2 separate regions of the Homo sapiens genome follow, and region 2 is linked to region 1. Evidence: fine-mapped expression QTL. A gene starts in region 1. The other region holds a variant in brackets. All regions are shown on one strand. Distances are between the middles of the regions. Region 1 holds the start of GLRX5 (glutaredoxin 5). Region 2 overlaps SYNE3 (spectrin repeat containing nuclear envelope family member 3).

Region 1 (12,680 bases):
CAAGTAACTGTTTACACATGGTTAATCTCTCTCACACTTTAGTTTTCAAAAACTGCAATATGCAGTGGTAGTTCTTACAAATATCACTTGAAATTAACTCAGAATCAGAGAGCTACTCCTGAAAATTAGAAAATCACATCCAAGAATGAATTTTAATGATAATCATTATTTCATATGTGATAGACGGTGGTGATTCCATCTGGGGCAGAAAATGCTGACTGCAAAGTTATATGGCAGAGTAACACTAGGAACTGGGAGTTAGGAGGCTATCTTACAAAGTCAGTTTACACGCATCTAATGCTCCACCAAAAAAACCCATACAAACAAATTCATATTCCAAAGTATCAACCCAGAAAGAGTACAGAAATGATACTTTAAAATTCCCTTCCAGAACTTTCAAAAGGTATTTTTCAAAATTCATCACATTCAGAACACTGGGCATTACTCCTGATTTGGACACTAAATTACGAGAGCAGCATAATCATAGTTTTCTTTCTTTTTATTTTTCCTGGTAGAACCTCACTACAGTAGCTTCAGAATCTGATATGAGTTCCAACTCTGTCTCTTACCTACTAGACTCTGTGATCTTGGGCAAGTTACACCACCTCTGAGAGTCACAATTTCTTCATATTCTCTAATTTAGAGAATGGCGTTAAGTCGAGATAAGATGATCTGAGCTGAAAGCACGGAAATCAGTAGACCCTCACTAGAGGAAAAGCAAGGCACGGGGCAGAGTGGGCAAGGCACAGGCTTAAGGATCAGTAGATCTGGTTTGCTAGCCTGTAAATGTAGCCTCAGACAAATCTGTTAATCTTTTAGCCTCAGTTTCCTCATCTGTAAAATGGGAATATACTCTACGCCTCACATATTATGAAGATTCCATGATATCTAAGGAATGAAATGAATTGAGCTCCCAGCATAGTACCAGGTACAGTGTGGACATTCTCTCCATACCAACATGCTCCACCACCCACCCTTCACAGTAATGCTTTTCTGAGAAAGGCAACAGAAAAAGCATAGGAAAATAAAGCAGGAAAAAGTGATTAAGTATACCCTAAAGTAATGAAAACGCCATTCAGGCCAGGTGCGGTGGCTCACACCTGTAATCCCAGCACTTTGGGAGGCCAAGGCTGGTGCATCACCTGAGGTCAGGAGTTCAAGACCAGCCTGGCCAACATGGTGAAACCCTGTCCCTACTAAAAATAAAAAAAATTAGCCAGGCATGGTGCCAGGTGCCTGCAATCCCAGCTCCTTGGGAGGCTGAGGCAGGAGAATCGCTTGAACCCGGGAGGCAGGGGTGGCAGTGAGCCGAGATTGCCCCCTGCACTTCAGCCTAGGCAGCAGAGTAACACTCTCTCAAAAAAAAAAAAATATATATATATATACCATTTATTGAGTTAAGGATTACTGAGTTTCATACTCTTTAAGCGTTTTACAAAAATAATCTTATTTAATCTTTACAAAAATCTGACAAGGCAGGTACAATTATCCCTACTTTACATAAGATGAAGAAACTAAGGCTCAGAAGGGTTAAGTAACTTACCGAAACTCACAGTGACAGCGCAGTGAAACCAGGATTTATATCCAGGCTTCCAGGAGTACAAAAGCCCAGACTCTTAACCACATGCTACCTGAGTCCCTCACCAGAGGTGGCCTCTACCCTCTAGCTGCCATCTCACTCCTGCCCAGGAGCTACAAGTGCACTGCACACATATCTGCAATATATGGGACTGTTTTATGCCTTTAACATTTACATATACAAATGGTATTATGCCATAATTACGTGTTTGCAACTTGCTTTTTGACTAAATATTGTATTTTTGAGATTCAGCCATGTTAAATACATCTAGATCTAGTTCATTTTAACTACAGTTTAGCTTTCCATCATGTGACTAAAGTTTATTTATCTGGTCTGCTGCTAATAGACCAAGATCCCTTCCTGTCAGTTTTTCATTATTGCAAGCCATGCTGCAATGAACGCGCCAACACAGGTATCCTAACACAGAGGTCCCCAACCTTTTTGGCACCAGGGACTGGTTTTGTGGAAGACAATTTTTCCACGGACCAGGGAAGGGTGGGGATAGCTTCGGGATGAAACGGTTCCACCTCACATCATCAGGCATTAGTTACATTCTCGTAAGGAACGCACAACCTAGATTCCTCACATGTGCAGTTCACAATAGAGTTTGTGCTCCTATGAGAACCTAATGTCGTCACTGATGTGGCAGGAGGCGGAGCTCAGGCGGTAAAGCTCACTTACCCACCGCTTACCTCCTGCTGTAAGTCCTCGATCCCTGGCCTGGGGGTTGGGGACCCATGTCCTAACACACACATGCAGAAGTCAGTCTCTAGGCCAGGGACAGATAAACTATGGTCTTCAGGCCAAATCCAGTCTACTTCGTAATTAAAGCTGTATTTTCATAAATAAAGTTTTATTGAAACTCAGCCTGCTCATTCATCTACATATTGCCCATGACTGACTTCAGGCTATATAACAGCAGAGTTGAATAGATGCAACAAAAACCACACAGCCCACAAAGCCTGACGTACTTAGTCTCTGGCCCTTTACTAGGGTAAGTTTGCAGATCCCCCTCTCTAGAATATATACCTAGGAGTCACGCAGCTGGGTCTTAGGCTCTGTTCACCCATAGCTTGACTGGGTACTGATAGTTACTCCTCCAAAGTGTTGGTACCATTTTATACTCCCATCTGCAGCATACATGTGCACCACACAAGCACATACACACAACTTGTTATCCAACTTTTAAGGTTCACCAGCATGACATGTTTCACTACTGTCTTCAATTCCCTGATACTGAAAAGGTGGAGCGTATTTTCAAATGCTTAATAAACATTCAACAACAGGATATGGTTATTTATTCAACAAATCATTTGAGTCCCTATTCTGTCACTGTTCCAGATGCAAGGACTACAATGATGATCTAAATCGGCAGCAAATGTTTATAATGCCTTTAAGGCCGCAGAGTTTGCAATATAATGATAAATAAAAGCAGTATTTATTTATTTATTAAAATGCTCACTGAAAGCTTGCTTTGCATAAGCGGTACACACAGCACCACAGGCAGTGGCATAAGACATATTCCCTCGTCTCTGGAGGGCAAAATACTATGTATAGACAAGCATGGTCTCAATGTGTTAAAAAAAAAAAAACTGTTAGGAACTAGATCTAAATGTTAATACAATAGTTTCCATAAATTACAGGTGATTTTCCTTCTTTAAACTTTTCAGTGTTTTCTACATTGCTTCCATGAGCATAAGTTCCTTTATTAAGACCAGGATTAGGAAATGATGATGTCAGTCTACTGGGACCTGATCCCTTTGTGACTGTCTTCTGTGTGCACTCCAGATAAAAAGAGAAGGACAAGAAGGTCTTGAGAAGGCCAGAACACAATGCTGCCTCATAGTCACCTTTGTTCCTTGGGTCACAGTCTCAAGATGTGTCTGTATCACACTCCTGGGAACCCAGTACTCAAAACTAGGAAAGAATGTTTTCCTCCGGTTTAGGCACTTTGTAAAGTTCAGGTCTCCTTGGCATAAGAACCAACAAAAGGCCAGTTTTGCAAGAGCTCCGTTCCTATTACTAGAAATGACCTTGGATCTGGTGTACAAACATAGTTTCGGCTGGCAAAAGCAAGCATCGGACAGCCCGTTAGTTGCTCTTGGTAAATAAAGCTGTATAGGGAAGAGGGGAAGAGTCTTAATAACCTGGCTGAACTAATCCCCATTTGGGGAACGTGCTTTTACCACCCTGCCCAGTCCAAATGTTAATACTTACTAATCTTTACTTTTCTAATCAATAAAAGAGGTATGTTATATTCAATATATATGCAACGCGTTTATTAACCAAAATAGCAATCTGATGAAACTCAGTGGTCAAGGAATGTAAGGGTTAAATTCCTGTCGCTGCTGTTTGAAAACTTAAGAAAGTAAGCTCAGAAACCAGACACCAGACGTGGATAAAAGACAGAAAAATAAAATGTTATCAGTACATATTCGTATTTTTGCTCCTATTTTCCGTTTACTAGCTATATTCCAGCATATCTCATTTCCAGTTATATTAAACAAGAGAAAATAAATTCACAAACCAAAGACCCTCGAAACATGATACTAAGCGAGATAACAACACCACTTTTTTACTAGTGCCATATTGGCAATTTGCAGGGGACTCCCTGCAAGGTCTCTGTCAAAAGACTGCAAAATAGTTACTCCTCTTTTAAGCAGAGAAGCTGTCTTCGAAGGAAGACTGCAGGTCCCTTGCCTTGCACATGATAAAACTGAGCCCAGTAACTGGTGGCATACTAGTTGACAAGGAAGACAAAAGGGTCATGAGAATAACACATGGTAATATTACATATACGTGGTAATTTGAACCTGCCCTCTCGACTCCTCAACTCAACATGCTTTCTAGGTCCCACCCACCACCACTATCACCTACAGCAAATGGAGGATCAGTTATCCCCAAGAGTCTTTAAGGACTAGATAATCTGGGAAAAAATACATTTGAAAACCATCAAGTGCTAATACGAAGCCAGCTACCATTTACCGGGTGCTTTCTGTGCCAGGTAAAATAATACACACTTTCTATAATTTTTACTTTGGCTTCCTAACACAAACTTTGCCAAATTGTCTCATTATCCTCAAATGCAGGTGAGTGACTTAAGTTTTACACCTGATTAGCCACAGAAGAGGATGTCAACCCAAAGCTTTTCCAAACACCAGCCTGTCTCATCATTGTAAGCAATGACTATGATTAGTAATTTCGAATTTAGAGTAACAGAGAACCTGGCACCTATTTTTAGCACACAACTGGCACCTCTTTTTAGCTAGGGACATGCAGGGACTCAGTCACTGAAAGTCTCTAACTGGGATGCAGGTATCCTAAGTCACTCTCTAGAAGGAAAAGGTACAGCCTTCCCAGTTTTCCACCAACCCTGACCATCCTGGCCAAGGAGCAGGCCCTTGTGCCTGGCCTCTTCCTCCTCCCCTACTCAGATAAGACTGGCGAATGCACGTGGAGTACTTGGAAAAGATGCTTATTAGCTGCAGCCTTCCCTCTCCCGGCCTAATCCATCTGGTCCCTGGTGCCCTGGCCCCCTGGGCTCCAAGGCTGAGCCAGTGAGTTAGCCCAGGGCCCAGGAGCCAGGGCTGCTTCTTTTCCCCACAAACCTCTCCAAGCCCTGGCCCACATAAATTCAGCCCTGTGCTTGAGTATCTAAAGCCAAATGTCATGACTCTTCCCCGACAACATAGATCCCGACTAAGGTCAGCCGACAGCTGTCCCAACCCTTTGCTTGTAGCAACCACAGAGGATGATGCTTGACACCCTGAGCCGTGAGCCAAGCGAGATCAGCCTCCGACCTCACTAGCCTCAAGGGCAACCTCAGCCCTCTCCCCACCATCGACAGCCCTAGACCTTACCCACGAGTAGGCCAATGGCTTCCAACCTCCCCAAAGTGTCCGCGAAAGTACCTATCTCACAGTGGGTCCTTACTATGAGTTTCCTAACCGTGCAGAGCAGTCAGGCAGCGGGCCACCCTCCTCCGAGTCAGTCATTGACAAATCGCCCCGAAACGCCTATATTAGCTCGAAGTGAGGATAAGTGAACCTTTAGGACTTTACCTACTGCTCAAGTTGGCAACAGTACAGAGCCCCAGATCCTCAAGACCCAGTGAAATCAACTACACCCTCAGCCCAGACTCTACTCCAGGGCAGTACTCCTCGCCCTAACCCGGCTCGAACCTTCAGACAGACCCCGGCGGATGGAGCCCCGCTCCCCAGCCCGGCGCGGCGGAACCCCTCGGCCTCGTGCAGCGATGCTCCTGGGCCCGGGGCGGAGGGCGCCTGCCCGGCACACTGGCCTGACCTTGTCGGAGCTCCGGGTCGTCCAGCACGTTGTAGGCCGCGTAATCGCGGACGCCGTGCAGCCGCAGGATCTGCACCACGGCGTTGCTGAAGCCGCACTGGGGCTGCTCCGGCGTCCCCTTGAGGAAGACCACCACCTTGTCCTTCTTCACCAGCGCGTCCAACTGCTCCGCCGAGCCGCCGCCGCCCGCGCCCGAGCCCGCCGCCCGCACGCCCGGACCCCAAAGGCCACCGCCGCCCGCGCCGCGCCCCCAGCGGAGCAGAGCCGCCGCAGCTCGGCCGAGGGACCCGCTCATCTCCGCACGCAAGCCGGAGCCCACGACGGCCCGGGCCCACAGCTGGCCACCCAGAGCGCTCCCCGGCCCGCGGCAGTCCGACCCGCCCCCTGGAGGCCCTCATTGGGCCGGCTCTAAACTGCCCTCCGTGATTGGACAATACTGATCAGTAATTACTCGATTCCACCAATCATGTTGCTCGTCCCGCCCGGCAGGTAGGAGGTGGGCCTTATGCCGGAGCCTCATCCTACTGCCTTACTATTGGTCGTCGGCAACCGCTTTGTTAGTTAATTGGAGAGACTGGATGTCCATCAGGGTCACGCTTGCAGGGCAACGAGAGGCAAAACAAGAGGGAAGACGACTTTCCTCCTGTGAGCCAATGAGGCCAGCTGGACTACGCCGAGACAACTGGGAGAGGCGCGGGACTCGCCCGTTCCGCGGAACGCCGGGAAGGGGTCACCTCCTGATGAAGTTTCCGGTTCCGGTGTCAGCGGCGGTTGAATTGCCATGGCAATGCGGTGGGCGCGCGCTTGTCGTGTTGGTCTCTTGGGAGGTAGCGGGGCTAGGCCGGGCGGGTATCCGCCTCTCCCAGCTTAGGTGAGCGTCCCCGGGCGCCTCCGGAGCGCCGCGGCCGCATGCAGTTCGTCGTGGCGGGGAGCCGGAGCCTGACCGGGGTTCCAGCGCTCGGGCCGTAGCCTTGGCTCCTGGACTTTCCCTGGCTCCGCCGCCACGTGGGAGCTGAGGCTCTGGGGCTTCCGCCTCCGGCGCGCGATTATTTCTCTAGAACAGTTTTCATTTTTAAAATTTGTAAAGCGCTTTTGCCTGTGTGATTTCCTCTGGGTTTTTTTTTTTTTTCTTCCTTTTTGTAGAGACGGAATTGGCGGCGGGGGCGGGGGGTCGATGTCTCACTTTTTTGCCCAGGCTGGTCTCGAACTCCTGGCTTCAAGGGATCCTCCTGCCTCGGCCTCTTAAAGTGCTGGGATTACAGGCGTGAGCCACCGCCCCCGGCCGCCTCTGAGTTTCCAGCCTCGTTGGCCCTCCAGCCTTTTAACCTGTTGGGCCTAGGATCAGGAAAGGTTTGTTGAATGGGGAACTAAGAAGTGAATTCGTTCGTTCGACAAACGTTTCCTGAGCAGCCGCTGGGTGCTAGGCGCAGTGCCAGCGCGGAATGTCCAGGGAGACCTGGTGCCCAAAGCTTGGACCCATCGTGAGAAATGAGAAGCAGATACAAAGCAGTGTGGGAGTGCAGAGGAGACAAAGCAAGCCTCATCAGGCCCATTGCTTGCTCTGCTCTCCCTTGTACTTACCAGTGCTTGACAATATACAGTTATTTACTAGCTTGGTTATTGACTTCCTACCCAGCACTCAGTTTTATTCACTGCTGTATCCTCAGTGCCTAGGACGATGCTTGGAACGTGGTAAGTGCTCCTATTGGCGGGAAGAATAAATCCGGAAGAGCAGGACCAGTGGACTTGCTACATAATCTGTAGTCTTGGAGCCGCACAGGGTTGGTGGTACCCTCGAGCACACCAGACTTGCAGAAAAAGCATACTCCAGAGGAAGCTGAGGCATGCCTGCTCGAGAGCCAGCTGTTCCATGTGCAATTTTCCTCTGATAGTTTCTGGTCACTGTTGCCACGGTGATAATGACTGGGCTATGTCATTATCTATCCGCCAACAGTAAGAGAAGCTTTGCAGTCGAGATATTGTTTAGCAGATGGAGTGTTTTCTGTTGAACACTAAGTACTGCCACAAGTTACTTTTTTTTTTTTAAACTTTGAGTATTTTTTTACAATGTTGCTGGAGGTGATCTGTTTATGCTTTGAGAGTGTTCGAATTTAAAATCAGAAAATCATGTCAGTGAGTGAGTCTTTCAAATAATCCTTCGGCATGAAACCTGAGCCTAGTAAACTATGAAAGTAAACTCGGCACATTACCCGAAAGTCTCAATGTCATATTTTCACCCCCATCAATATTATTGATGATTGCTCATTTTCTAATGTGGGACCTGAAATTTACCAGGTGCTTAAAGAATCTTTTTGTTTTTCAGATTCATTGATTCCAGGTAAATCAGAGGAACAAGCAACATGAACAGAAATATGTAGAAAAAGCTATTATGCAGAAGCATAATTGTTGTTTCAGAAGTCCAGCATCTGGTGCACTTAACAATAGAGAATATATTAAACTCTTTCCAAAATAACCTGTTGTTCCTACCTGTGTTGTAAGTGTTTTGTTTGTTTTTAAGTAAATATTGGTGATTTGTTGCCAAAAACCTAAACTGTTTGTTGCTGTCAACTTAAATAACGAACAGAGAGAGGCTCTCTAAAAGAAAATGGCATTTATTCAGGAATAGAGCACTGCAATGAGAAAATGCATGCGATAGTTAACTGTGTGTATCCTGGGAGATAGAGGAAGACAAAGGTCTTTAAAGGAAAAATGAGGAGGGTTACATAATTGTTTTGAGATAATTATTTTTGACTACAAGGATCAGTAACAAAGGTGACACCAGTCCCAGGTTGGACAGGCAGGTGCTCGGCAGGCATTGCAGAAGTATTTTTTGTGTAAGATTGAGATGGCCTTTGTGCAGGATTGTGGTTTTGGAATCTTCTGTGATCGTTTTTGCTATCAGGCATTTATGCTTGCGAACTCTTTATGGCCTTCCCTGTGTCTATTTTGATTCCACCTTTCTCATTGCCCACTCTAAACTGTAATTCTGCTTTTATGTTGACTGAGATCAGGAGAAGAATTTGCAAACTTATATCCTGAGACAGAACAGTAATGAGGAGTATCGTGTTCCTTACCTAATGTATAATATTGGGCTCAGAAGCAGTTGTCTTTTTTATTTGTTGAACGTTGTATTAAGTTGAGAATGCAGCTGCCATTAAAGATTAAGAGTAATCCTTGAGAAGGAAGAGTACAAAGCCTGTGTTTTGCTAAATCATAGTGAAGTTGCCGTGTTTTTGTAGAATATGATAAGAACATACAGTGTGTGAAATGCTAAGGATATGGAAAAGCATGTTGGTGCTCTTTCAAGGAGCTATTTTGATAGCATGAGCAAGGGCAGGAAACAGATCATGTATCTGAACCAAAGAAATTGAAACAATACATCTAAATTTAAATTTTTAATAAAACAACCCAAAATATAGTGAAATACTTAGCACCAAACATCAGTGATCTTAAGAAGCAAAGAAAACAGTATTCAAAATACTTCGTCCAAAGTATCAGACTTTTGCATAAAGTTTGGCATTTTGGTTTTGAGATTCCTCTTTAGTCCTATGATGAAAACATGACAAAATATACATCTTAAATAAACAGTTGTCATCAGTCTGCATCTATGACCAGATGTTTTGGGTGTTTTGAGTAAATGGCCTGTCTTAGCATGTGATGGCTTCCTGCCTCGTGAACATTAGTGAAGAGGTGAGGGTGGGAAGTACTCAGGAACTTCTGAGAATCCTGGGATTTGAGTCACAGGATTGGTTAAACCCCAAACTAAATAATCATGCCGTGTAAACATGCTGACTCAGGCATCCTAAAAATGTTTTTCTTCCTTGTGTTTATTTATAGATAAGGCTTTACTATATTTGGTAGAACTCCTGTTTTCTATCCACTTCTCCAAAAACAAATTCGCCATTGAATTCATCGTGTAAACCTCCACATATCTGAGATAGCTTCTTCCGTTTATCAGCCCCAAATGAAGAACTAGAGTTCAGATTATTGAACTGAAGGTGATGCTTTATCTGAGCACTCCACATGTCAGTGTTTCTGTACCTTTACTTTTTTAAAAAATTATTTTTTAAAAAGATGAGGTCTCAGTAGGTTGCCCAGACTGGTCTCCAACACCTGGTCTCGAATACTCCTCCCGCCTTGCCCTCCCAAAGTGCTAGGGTTACAGGTGTGAGCCGCCGCACTGGCCCTGTTCATTTTATGCTCAGTGCTGCATTCTTGTTTGTTCTTAGAAAATGAGAGGGTGTGTTTGCATGAGAACGTGTGGTACAGAAGTGTCTATCTGAGCTGGCCAGAACATTCTGCAAATGTCATATTAAGGGCAAAATGGCTGCTTGGATTGTACAAGGGGCCGAACCACCACGCATTCCTAAGCTAAAATAGCAGATTCTATTGACCTGAGCTGGAACCTGAAAGCTTCCTCTGTGATGCACTGAGCTATCATCTAGTAGTTTTAGAGCATCACTGCAACCCTGGAACTACCTGGATTCCCTGATAACACCAAAAATAATGTAATGTATAAGAAACTGAAGCAAAATGCAGCCCTCAGAATTTTTCTAGTCCCTATTGTGGAGATAGAAATGCTTGTTGGATTTCGACTACCTCTATCTGACAAGGCAGCTGGTTTATTAATACTTCTTTGGCCGAGGCTTTGCTCATCCCTGCCGCCCACATCTTGGAGACAGGAAGGCAGGCCAGCCTCCACTGTGTCACACAAGTCCTGCTCCCTTCACCTGCCCTGAGTCACTGGGTCACTGAAGAGAAAGGGCATGCTGTAGATCTGGTTAGTTCAGTCTAGAATAGACCGTGGGAGATAGGTGAGCATTTATGAAAAGCCCAGATGCCATGACAACCCAGTTTTGTCCTGGAATTTGGGTGGAGGTGTAGTCCTGGGTTCTGGTCTTAAACGTCGCTGAGTACTTGAGTTCTTTTTGATTTTCCTCAGATTTTTCCACATCTATTTTCCCCTTTCTGGATTTTGGAAAAATCCAAATTGATGTCTGCCGAAGTTTGTATATAATTGAAGAATTTCTTCATATAAAGGCTGCAGCGTTGTAAGAAATCTGTGTGTACTTTCTCTGCTCATAAATATTTACCCCCAAATGTTATCATCTTGCATAGATTGTACTTTTTTGTTAAATTTTTGTGTGTATACATGAATTCATTCGAAGCATACATTAACCCTAGGATAACAGTTCTCAGACATTTTGGTCTCCAAATTATGTTTTTTTCTAATATAATATGTTGATAGACATTAGCACTTGTGTCTCTAAGTTTTGTTGCCTTCACATGCAATTTCTGTTTTCCTGCTGATTCATAGCATCACCAACAAGTCCTGTAGAAAATCAACTATCCCAGTTATCTTTGCTGGCTCTGCATATATACTAGATACACAGATGATTTTTGGGCTTTGTAAATTAAAATGACAAAAGTTCAATCCAGAGATCTAATAGCTGGACGTGGTGGCTCACATCTGTAATCCCAGCACTTTGGAAGGCCAAGGCGGGCAGATCACCTAAGGTCAGGAGTTCAAGACCAGCCTGGCCAACATGGCGAAACCCCATCTCTACTAAAAATACAAAAAATTAGCCGGACGTGGTAGCGGGCACCTGTAATCCCAGCTGCTTGGAGACTGAGGCAGGAGAATTGCTGTAACCCAGGAGGCGGAGGTTGCAGTGAGCTGAGATCTCGCCACTTCACTGCATACTCCAGCCTGGGCAACAGAGCGAGACTCCAACTCAAAAAAACAGACAAACACACAGAAAACCAAAAATCTAATAAAAAAAAATCTAAGCCTATAGCCTGCTGTTTCTGAAAGCTATGTTCCTCTTGTCCCCACGCTGCTTTCTCGCATTGAGGGCCAAGCTCCTCGGCTGCGTGCCTTGAAAGTCATACACCTGTTGGATTTCATTCTGTTGCAAGCCTTATTTAATAACAAGGACATGGGCCTGAATCATATCTCCCGGAAAGTGGTATTGAGAATTAAGTGGTAATCGTAAAACTTGTTAAGCCTTTTGGTTAAAGGTGATGAAAGAATTGTTTATTTTCCCCAACTGCCTGTTTAATGGCAGTGTTTTGTAGTATTATGTGTTTCTTTTTTTTTTAACCAGCAGATAGTTTCTATAACTCAAATTATTACATTCCAGAGACCTGAAAAGGTCCCTAGATCGCAGAATAGAAAGAGTAAGGAGGCAGTGCTGTTGTGTATCCAACCTGTTAGGAAGATTTATCTGTTAGCAGAAGTTTATGTCTCCCTCTGATAGTCACTGAGTTTGCAGCCAGAAGAACATTTAGGAAATTTAATTGTTTTCTTTTGAATAATTGCTAAGATGTATTGCCAAGGCCATAAATACACTTTATCATGAGTCAGAATTTCACTTTGTACTTCAGTCTTTGAGCTTTAATAATTTCATGCCTTCAAAATGCAGTCTTGCTATTGTGGGAACCCATTGCTCCAGCCTTCTTCAATCGTTCATCTAGGCCTGGCGCAGTGGCTCATGCCTGTAATCCCAGCACTTTGGGAGACCGAGGCGGGTGGATCACCTGAGGTCAGGAGTTCGAGACCAGCCTGGCCAACATGGTGAAACCCCGGCTCTACTAAAAATGCAAAATTAGGCGAGCATGGTGGTGGGTGCCTGTAGTCCTAGCTACTTGGGAGGCTGAGGCAGGAAAATTGCTTGAGCCCAGGAGGTGGAGGTTGCAGTGAGTCAAGATCGCACCACTGCACTCCAGCCTGGGCGACAGAGCAAGACTCTGTCTCAGAAATAAACAAATAAATAGAAAACAGTTCATCTAGCAA
Region 2 (8,000 bases), 71 kb after region 1:
TTTACCCTCCTTGCCCACTGTGACACTAGCTTGGGCCCTCTGCCCAAGAGACATTTCTCCAGTCCTGGGATTCTGGGGGACAGGATATTCTCTTGGGATTAGGGCCAGCCCTGCCTGCCTCTTTCTAATTATAATCAGGTTGAATGATGATAATAGACACTGGGAACCCAGCGTGTTTTGTCAACAATTCCTAAGAGACTTACCGTGTGTGCATCCTCCAGAGCATGGCACAATGGCTCTGGAGAAAGAAGGCCTGGGGCCCTGCTAGCACTGTAGCCAGAGTCCCTGCTTGTACCAGGAAGCTGGGTGGTGGTTGGCCGGGACAGGGGGTGGTGGGGAGCAAACACTCGGACAGACCTGGCATTGACTCTTGTCCTGCTGGTTACTTCCTATGTGGTTTGGGAAAGTTACCTGACCTCGCTGAACCTCAAGCACCTCTCTGGACAATGGGAGTAATCAAGTGCTCCTTGAAGGTTGTTAGGAAGTTAGGAGGGGATAGCAAATATCAAGAGCGAGGCACACTGCTTGGTACAAAGTAGGCCCTCAGTAAACAAGAGCTGCCAGGATCATCTCCATTTTTATAAAGCAAGGATGTGCATGGAGATGGGAATGACTTTGCACAGTGCTTCCTGCTTTCTAAATCCTTGCGCTGGAAATTCCTAACACAGTGACTTGATGTTGGCTGGGGAGATAGAGCCACCTCCATGTTAGAGATGGAGAAACTAAGGCATGTGAAGAGGCAGGGTTGCAGAGTGAGTTCACAGCACCCCTGGAACGCACACGCAGGCTCCCAGCCTTCCGTCCCCATTGGGTGCAACGAGCCCACAGATGCAGATGTCACAGATGTCAGTGGGGCAGCATTCCACATGGCAGGAGCTCCTCCTTCACCCCAGCCATGGGGAAGGGTCAGAGACAAGCAGGCTGCTGGGAAGCCAGTCTAAGGACACTGACCACCAGCCCCCAGGGAGACAGGCTGGGGATCTGAGCTTGAGCTTTAGGCCATGCCTGCTGTTAGTAAAGACAGATCCAAAGTGCTCTGCAGGTGACTGGACACATCCCAACCGCAGTCTGCTCCTAAAATTAGTGGGTGTGCGTGTGCCAGCGGCCTGGAGAAACTGTGTTTAGAGCCCCAGTGCCAAAGAGAAATGACTGGGGGTGTCTGTGCATTGACAGTGGGAGTTCAGGGCCAGGATTTAAGGTGCTGGAGGTAAACGGCTCCCCAAGATGCATCCCCAAAACTGGTGGTTCTGGGAGGAAGTTTGGAGTCTGAGCTCCCCTGGCTCCTACCCTCACGCAGGGAGCTTATTTACTGGGCAGAGGGTCTTATCCAGTAGGACTGAGGGAGGGTCTAGAATCTGGAGTGTCAACAAGCTGCCCAGGTGACTCAGAGGCCAGAAAGGGCATCATCATGCCCCCAGACCACAGCCCCCTAGTATTGGGGAGGGGGTGACAGCACAGACCCCCGACCCAGGAGGCAGGTGGCTGGTTCCCTCACAACCTTGAGGTCTCTGTGCCCACAGCCGCATCGAGTGGGTGTGGCTGCACTGGAGCGAGTACCTGCTGGCCCGAGATGAGTTCTACCGCTGGTTCCAGAAGATGATGGTCACACTGGAGCCCCACATCGAGCTCCAGCTGGGCCTGAAGGAGAAGCAGTGGCAGCTGAGCCACGCCCAGGTGCTGCTGCACAACGTGGACAACCAGGCGGTGCTCCTGGACCGGCTGCTGGAGGAGGCAGCCTCCCTGTTCAACAGGATCGGGGACCCCAGCGTGGACGAAGATGCCCAGAAGAGAATGAAGGCTGAGTACGATGCAGTGAAGGCCAAGGCCCAGGTGAGGGTGAGGCTGAGTGGGCTACATCCTCACCCACCCATCCATGTATCCACCCTTATCTACCCATTCCAGCCACTGTTTGCCTACTATCAAGCTATTTACCTACTATCAATCTATCTTTCTACTATCAATCCATCTACTCACCTGTTCACTATCCAACCACCCTCCCATCCATCTGTCTACCTACTCACCCATCTACCTCCCCACTAAATCACCAAATCTCCCCTTCACTATCCACCCACACACCACCCCATTCACCTATCTACCCCACCATTTGTTCATCCATGTATTCTCCCACCCATCTGTTGACTCACTCATCCATCTACTTCCCCACCAGCCTGATCAATCTGCTATTCATCTCTTCAACCACTTAATCGCCCACGCATTCATCTATCTACTCATTCACCTACCCATCAACCCAGCCACCTCTTCCTCACTCACCCATTCACTCATCCATCTCTCCACTGCCTACCCCTTCACCACCTATCTACCCACTATTGACCATCACCCACTCGTTTATCCAGCCATCCACCCACCTAGCTACCCATCCCCCAATCCTCACCTACCAACTCTTCCACCACCCACTCACCATTATCTACCGTCCAGATACCCAGTGTTTCGCAGTGCTTAATATACATATAGGTGTGTTGACCGACTGACTGATGGACTGTGATGTTCACTTTGATCCAAACAGCTTCCCCCTTCTCCTCCTTTCTCTCTCTTCCTCTCTCCCTCCTCCCCTCCCTTCCTCCTCCTGCCCTTTAATCCTTCTCCTTCAGTGTTTCCTCCTTGCTCTCTCTTGCCCTTGCCCCAGTCCCTCTGTCCATTCTCTGTCTGCATTTCCTCACCCCATTCTTGCCTTATTTGGAAACAGTTCATTGAGTTATCAAGTTCAATTACATTTGTTAGAAATTTTATTTGGTTCTGTATTATGTCTCCCTGTTCTTTTTAACAAATTATGTCATTTTCCCCCTGAGATTTTGCATTCCTCCCAGATATAGCTTATATTTGCAATCATTCTAAACATATGTATTTTACAGTCCCCATCAGATTTTTCTAGTGGCTGAGGTTCCAGGTCTAAGGCTGAAGTTCCACGTCAGGCACCTATGTGTCCCCTGACATGGTAGATTGTTTCCTTGGGGGGTGTTGTCCTTTTGAGCTCTAAGCTCAGCCTAAGCAGGATGCATCTGCAGAAGCCTGCAGCTGGGACACCACCTGAGAGTGGCTTTCTGTTGGCTTCAGCTGGGCTCCTCCTGAGGTTTATCTTCACGACTCCTATTTTCATGTCAGTGAATTGGCTTGGGGGTTCCCAGATCAGGCGGATATTCTAAACGTGAACCCCAAGCCAGAATCATACAATAGGCCCCAACTCCATATTCTGAAGGGTGATTGGTTTTTTTTGTTTGTTTGTTTTTAGGCCCAGGCTAAAACATGCACATTTCCTTCTCAGATTGCGTTTGTAACAATATTTTTTTTCTACTTCACCCTTTGGCTAGTGGGGGCGGGCAGCCACTTGAGGCTCTGTCTTTTTGCAGTGGTCTCTGTTGCCTCTGAGCCCAAAGTCTCACTTCTTACTCCAGCCTGAGCATTAAACCCAAGCTTCTAGTAACTAAGACTTCAGGCACCTGTGTGAGCTTAACAGGGTGGTTTCCCGGGCATCTTTACTTCTGGCCCATGGGAATATCCCTTCCCTTGGTGTGACGTGGGTCTGCATTGAAACGGTGTTTGTTATGTTACATTTTATCTGGCATTTCTGGCTCTCTAGTTGGCTATAGCGCTGAAACTGAACATCTCCTGGGTTCTTCATGCTGACAGTTTAAGGGAAATAAGCTCTGTGATAAGCAGAACTAGAAAATCCACCAGGAACAAGGCTCTGGCGCTTGGGAAGGGACTTGGATTCCAGGCCAGGCACTGCTGCTTCCCAGCTGTGTGGCCTCAGGGCAGCTCACCTGACCTGCACCCAGGTTGTGGGGGCTGTATGGTTACATGTGAGCTCTTTGAAAACTGGCAAGCATTTTGCCAATATAAAGAACGACTTCTACTCTCAGTAGCAGTGAGAATAAATAGGAACAACAATGGCTGTTTGCCATGCAGCAGGTGCTCAGAACTATCTGTTGAAATAATGAGAACTCCACCCCTGCAGTTTGAAGGCAAGCAACCCGCAGGGCCCCAGAGAGGAGCCACAGGAGGCTCCAGGAGACTGCGCAAGGCCCAGAATGGATGGGCAAGGCGGGGATTCGACTTGGCTCTTGCAGAGGCAGCCAATTGGCCCTCATCCAGCCCTGCCAAGGCCCGTGTGGCATGGGCAGGCTTCATGGCAATTCTCTCTCCAGGTCTGCCCCTCTGGCCCAGCTGGGACAGGTGCCTGGCTCCACAGCCTCTTTGCTGTGGCTTTACAGGAAACAGGTGCTTGTGCCAATCAGCAGAGAGCGCCTGGTGCAGGGTGTGGAGGAGATGAGATAAAAAGTTGTTGGTGTGTGTGCAGGTTTGCATGTATGTGCATGGGTGTGTGTGCATGTTTGTACGTGAGGGTGGATGCTGGGGTGCTGAGTGAGCATCAATTCTGGCCCAGATGCTGAAAGGATTGCCTCCAAGAGCCTCATTTTCATTCCAGGGAGTTCTCCCCTCACACAATCCAAAACGCTATAGACATCACAGCTCTTATCAGTGAGAGCTGTTTTTTCTAACCTTTTCCTGTCTCTGACCTCATCTGCTCCCCCA[G/CG]TCTTTTTATGAAGTAGATGGAGAAGTTGTTATTGGACTCTTTTTTTTATTTTGAGACTGAGTTTCACTCTTGTTGCCCAGGCTGGAGTACAATGGCATGATCTCAGCTCACTGCAACCTCTGCCTCCCGGGTTCAAGTGATTCTCCTGCCTCAGCCTCCCGAGTAGCTGGCATTACAGGCATGTGTCACCATGCCCGGCTAATTTTGTATTTTTTAGTAGAGATGGGGTCTCTCCATGTTGGTCAGGCTGGTCTCAAACTCCCGACCTCAGGTGATCCGCCTTGGCCTCCCGAAGTGCTGGGATTACAGAAGTGAGCCACTGTACCTGGCCTTTTGGACTAATTTTTTAGATTAAAAAACATTCTGTGCGTCAGACACCAGCGGCCCAGTAGAAAAAGCCAGAGGTGCTGATGACTTCTAAGGTGGCGCTCCCTGCAGCTGCGACTCAGGTCCTGCGTTAGTGTCTGCACCTGTGACCATCAGGATGAGCTGGGGCCCCGGGTGCTTCTGTGGTCAGGCTGGGACAGTGAAAGGCAGGTTTGAGCTGCTGAAGAGGGAGCCCTTGCATCCAGGGCTCTCAAGAGGCAAAGGCCCGCCTGGCAGTGTCCTGGGGCAGGAGCATGGAAGGCTGTGTCATGTGCGGAGACAGCGGTGATGGGGGAGGTTTGGGGTGCGGTGAGGGGGAGACTCCCTCCATGGTGGAAGCCCTTGGAGTTGCCAGATGGCTGGTCAATGCTGATGCCAATGTGGAAATGGGGCGCTGTTGTTTGTGGGGTGGCTGGACCCTGCATGGAGAAGTGAATTCAGTTTTGGCTTTCTCAGCTGTTGGCTGAAGGCCATGGCCCCTCATGAAGTCTTCCTGCAAGCTTGAGGACTTTGTTCTCACTCACAGGGAGCCCGGTCAGCTCTTAGACAGGAGGGCTGTGGTGTACCCTGGAGGTGTTTCCTGTCTCTCTAGAAGCTGGCCATGGGGAGAACTGAGGGGTAGGTGGGGAGGGGCCACGCGGACCCCTGCAGCCTCTTTGATCTTGTATTCAGAAGGTATGAGTGTGCATTTCTATGGGGCGAGGAGCTATAGCATCCACCAGATTCTATGGATGGAGCTTTCGTGGATCCAGAGGGTGCCATGTTCTTCCGAAGCCTGAGAGGCTCCTGAGCGGGGCAAACTTCTCCATCGCCCTTGGCCAGAGATCCAACCACTCAATCCTAAGCTCCTCATCAGCAAGGTGGGATGCAGCCCCCGGCATTGACCTCCTGGGTGTCCCCAGCCCTCCAGCCCCAGACAAAGGGGGAAGATTCTAGCCTCATCCCAAGGTGGGTGGGCACTCCACATACCCAGCAGCCTGCAGAGATCCTTGGTGGTCCCAGCCTCCCAGTCCCTGCTCTGAAAGCTTGATGAAGACCTCCCCTGCATAAAAGGTCTCTCTTGGGGCAGTCGTCTGACTCCAGCGATGGTTCTGTCCTCGTGCCTTCCTGGGGGTCGAGGCCTGGCCTCGGGGTGGGATTGGTCTCTAGGTTCAGGTTAGTGCCCCTACTTTTACCTATGAGAGCCCATTGCCACTGCTTGCCATGCTAGAACAGGCCACTGCTCCAACGAGGAAAACCCATTTTTGACGTCCATCATGTTAATTAGCACAGCCTCTAGGGTTGATGGGGACGGAACCACAGAAGCACCATGGGGTCCTCCCTGAACTGGAGCCTCTGTGACCACCTGCTAGAGGGAGATTCTTGACTAGGGCCAAGGCTAAGCCCAGAGGGGAGCAATGGCACATTGTCAGCCCGCAGTGTTTGCAAGTGAAATGTAGACAGGGCAGGCTGGCTGCGGGGAGGGGCTTGTTTGTTTGTTTTTAATCCCGATTTAGTCTTCCCAAAGGCAGGCACATGGAAGCATCCTCACCCCCGCTGCTTCCCGTGGCGGCCCTCACAGAAGGCGCGTCTGTCTGGCATCTTGGCCGTGAATCAGAGCTGCTTGTGATGAATCAGAGCTGCTCGTGCAGCCCTTTGCAGAGGCATAAATCCGCACCACCCTTGTTAATTGGTTAGGTTTTGACATTCCTGACAGCTCTGCCCGCCGCAGATGGTGTAATTGCTGGGTCTAACGAGAAGGTTGAGCACCTTCCCGTTTGTCACCCCGTCATTCTCCAGCACGGCTGGATTCTGCCCTGTGACTGTTATGCCTGGCACGGATCTCAGCTGGATCCCTGCCCCTCCTGCCGAGGTCCTCTCTGAGCACCTGCTCCCCATCACACAGACTTTTATTTACCCTGGACTTCTCCGGGTGCCAGCACCTCATCCTTCACACACTAGCAGCCACGGCCGGCACTTCCATGGGAGAGTTCACTCCCGGCTGCATCTATCACCATCAGCGCGGCCAGGGGCCCAGCATCCAGCCTCTGTCTGTTACTCCTGACCCACTTTGTTTCATGAATGAGCCTTTCCTGTTGATGGAGGAGGCTCCAGGAGAGTTTTGACGGATTTAAATAACCCTGCAGGAAGGGGAAGCCAGCAGGGGAGCTTGCCGAAGCCCCGGAGCCATCCTTAGGGCTGCAGGCGGGAAGCATGAAGGGGACTGTCCCCTCGCTTGCTCCACTTTCAGATTCAAGCAGGGCCCATGTTTTGTAAGAATTTTGTCTTTCTTGATTCCAGTTGTAAGCCATTTCAGTTACTATAACTTTAAAATAGGCTTTTGACTGGGCATGGTGGCTCACGCCTGTAATCCCAGCACTTTGAGATGCTGAGGCAGGTGGATCATTTGAGGTCAGGAGTTCGAGACCAACCTAGCCAACATGGTGAAACCCCGTCTCTTCTAAAAATAGCAAAAAAAAAAAAAAAAAAAAAAAACTAGGCATCGTGGTGCACCCCTGTAATGCCAGCTACTTGGGAGGCTGAGGCACGAGAATCGCTTGAACCCAGGAGGCAGAGGTTACAGTGAGCCAAGATCAGGCCATTGTACTCCAGTCTAGGCAACAGAGTGAGACTCTGTTTCAAAAAATAAAAAATAAAACTAGGTTTCTAAATAAGAATGTATGGTGCCTCCAATGTTATTTCTCTTTTTCACAACCCCAGTTGGAGTGCTCAACAATTTTTGTTGTTGTTGTTGCTGTTTTGAGACAGGGTCTTGTTCTGTCAGGTGAGGTAGGCTGGAGTGCAGTGGTGCAGTCACAGCTCACTGCAGCCTCCACCTCCTGGGCTCAAGCGATCCTCCTGCCTCAGCCTCCCAAGTAGCTGGGACTACAAGCGCCCTTCACAAACCCAGCTAATCTTTAAATTTTTTGTAGAGATGCCATCTCACTGTGTTTCTCAGGCTGGTCTCGAACTCCTGGGCTCAAGCAATCCTCCTGCCTCCACCTCCCAAAATGCTAGAATTATAGACACGAGCCACCATGCCCAGCCTTGAGAGAACTTCTCAGATCTCTACTGAAGAGCTTGGTCCTAAGCCTGGGCTTCC

What was found.
Region 2: its variant is fine-mapped to the expression of GLRX5 in esophagus muscle (GTEx, PIP 0.91).

What each region holds. Positions count from the first base shown.
Region 1 is chr14:95,528,589-95,541,268 of GRCh38, reverse strand. GLRX5 (glutaredoxin 5) reads right to left here and starts at 6,219. Exons shown (of 2, transcript NM_016417.3): 1 at 5,885-6,219. The coding sequence starts at 6,179. SNHG10 (small nucleolar RNA host gene 10) reads left to right here and starts at 6,397. Exons shown (of 1, transcript NR_003138.3): 1 at 6,397-8,357. It also overlaps SCARNA13. RefSeq lists silencers at 5,787-5,846, 6,057-6,346 and enhancers at 6,487-6,946, 6,210-6,999, 7,000-7,789.
Region 2 is chr14:95,459,761-95,467,760 of GRCh38, reverse strand. SYNE3 (spectrin repeat containing nuclear envelope family member 3) reads left to right here. Exons shown (of 18, transcript NM_152592.6): 4 at 1,521-1,830. Among named protein-coding and RNA genes, the nearest start is that of SYNE3-AS1, 52 kb to the left of the region's middle. The variant G/CG (reference allele first, on the strand shown) is at 4,552.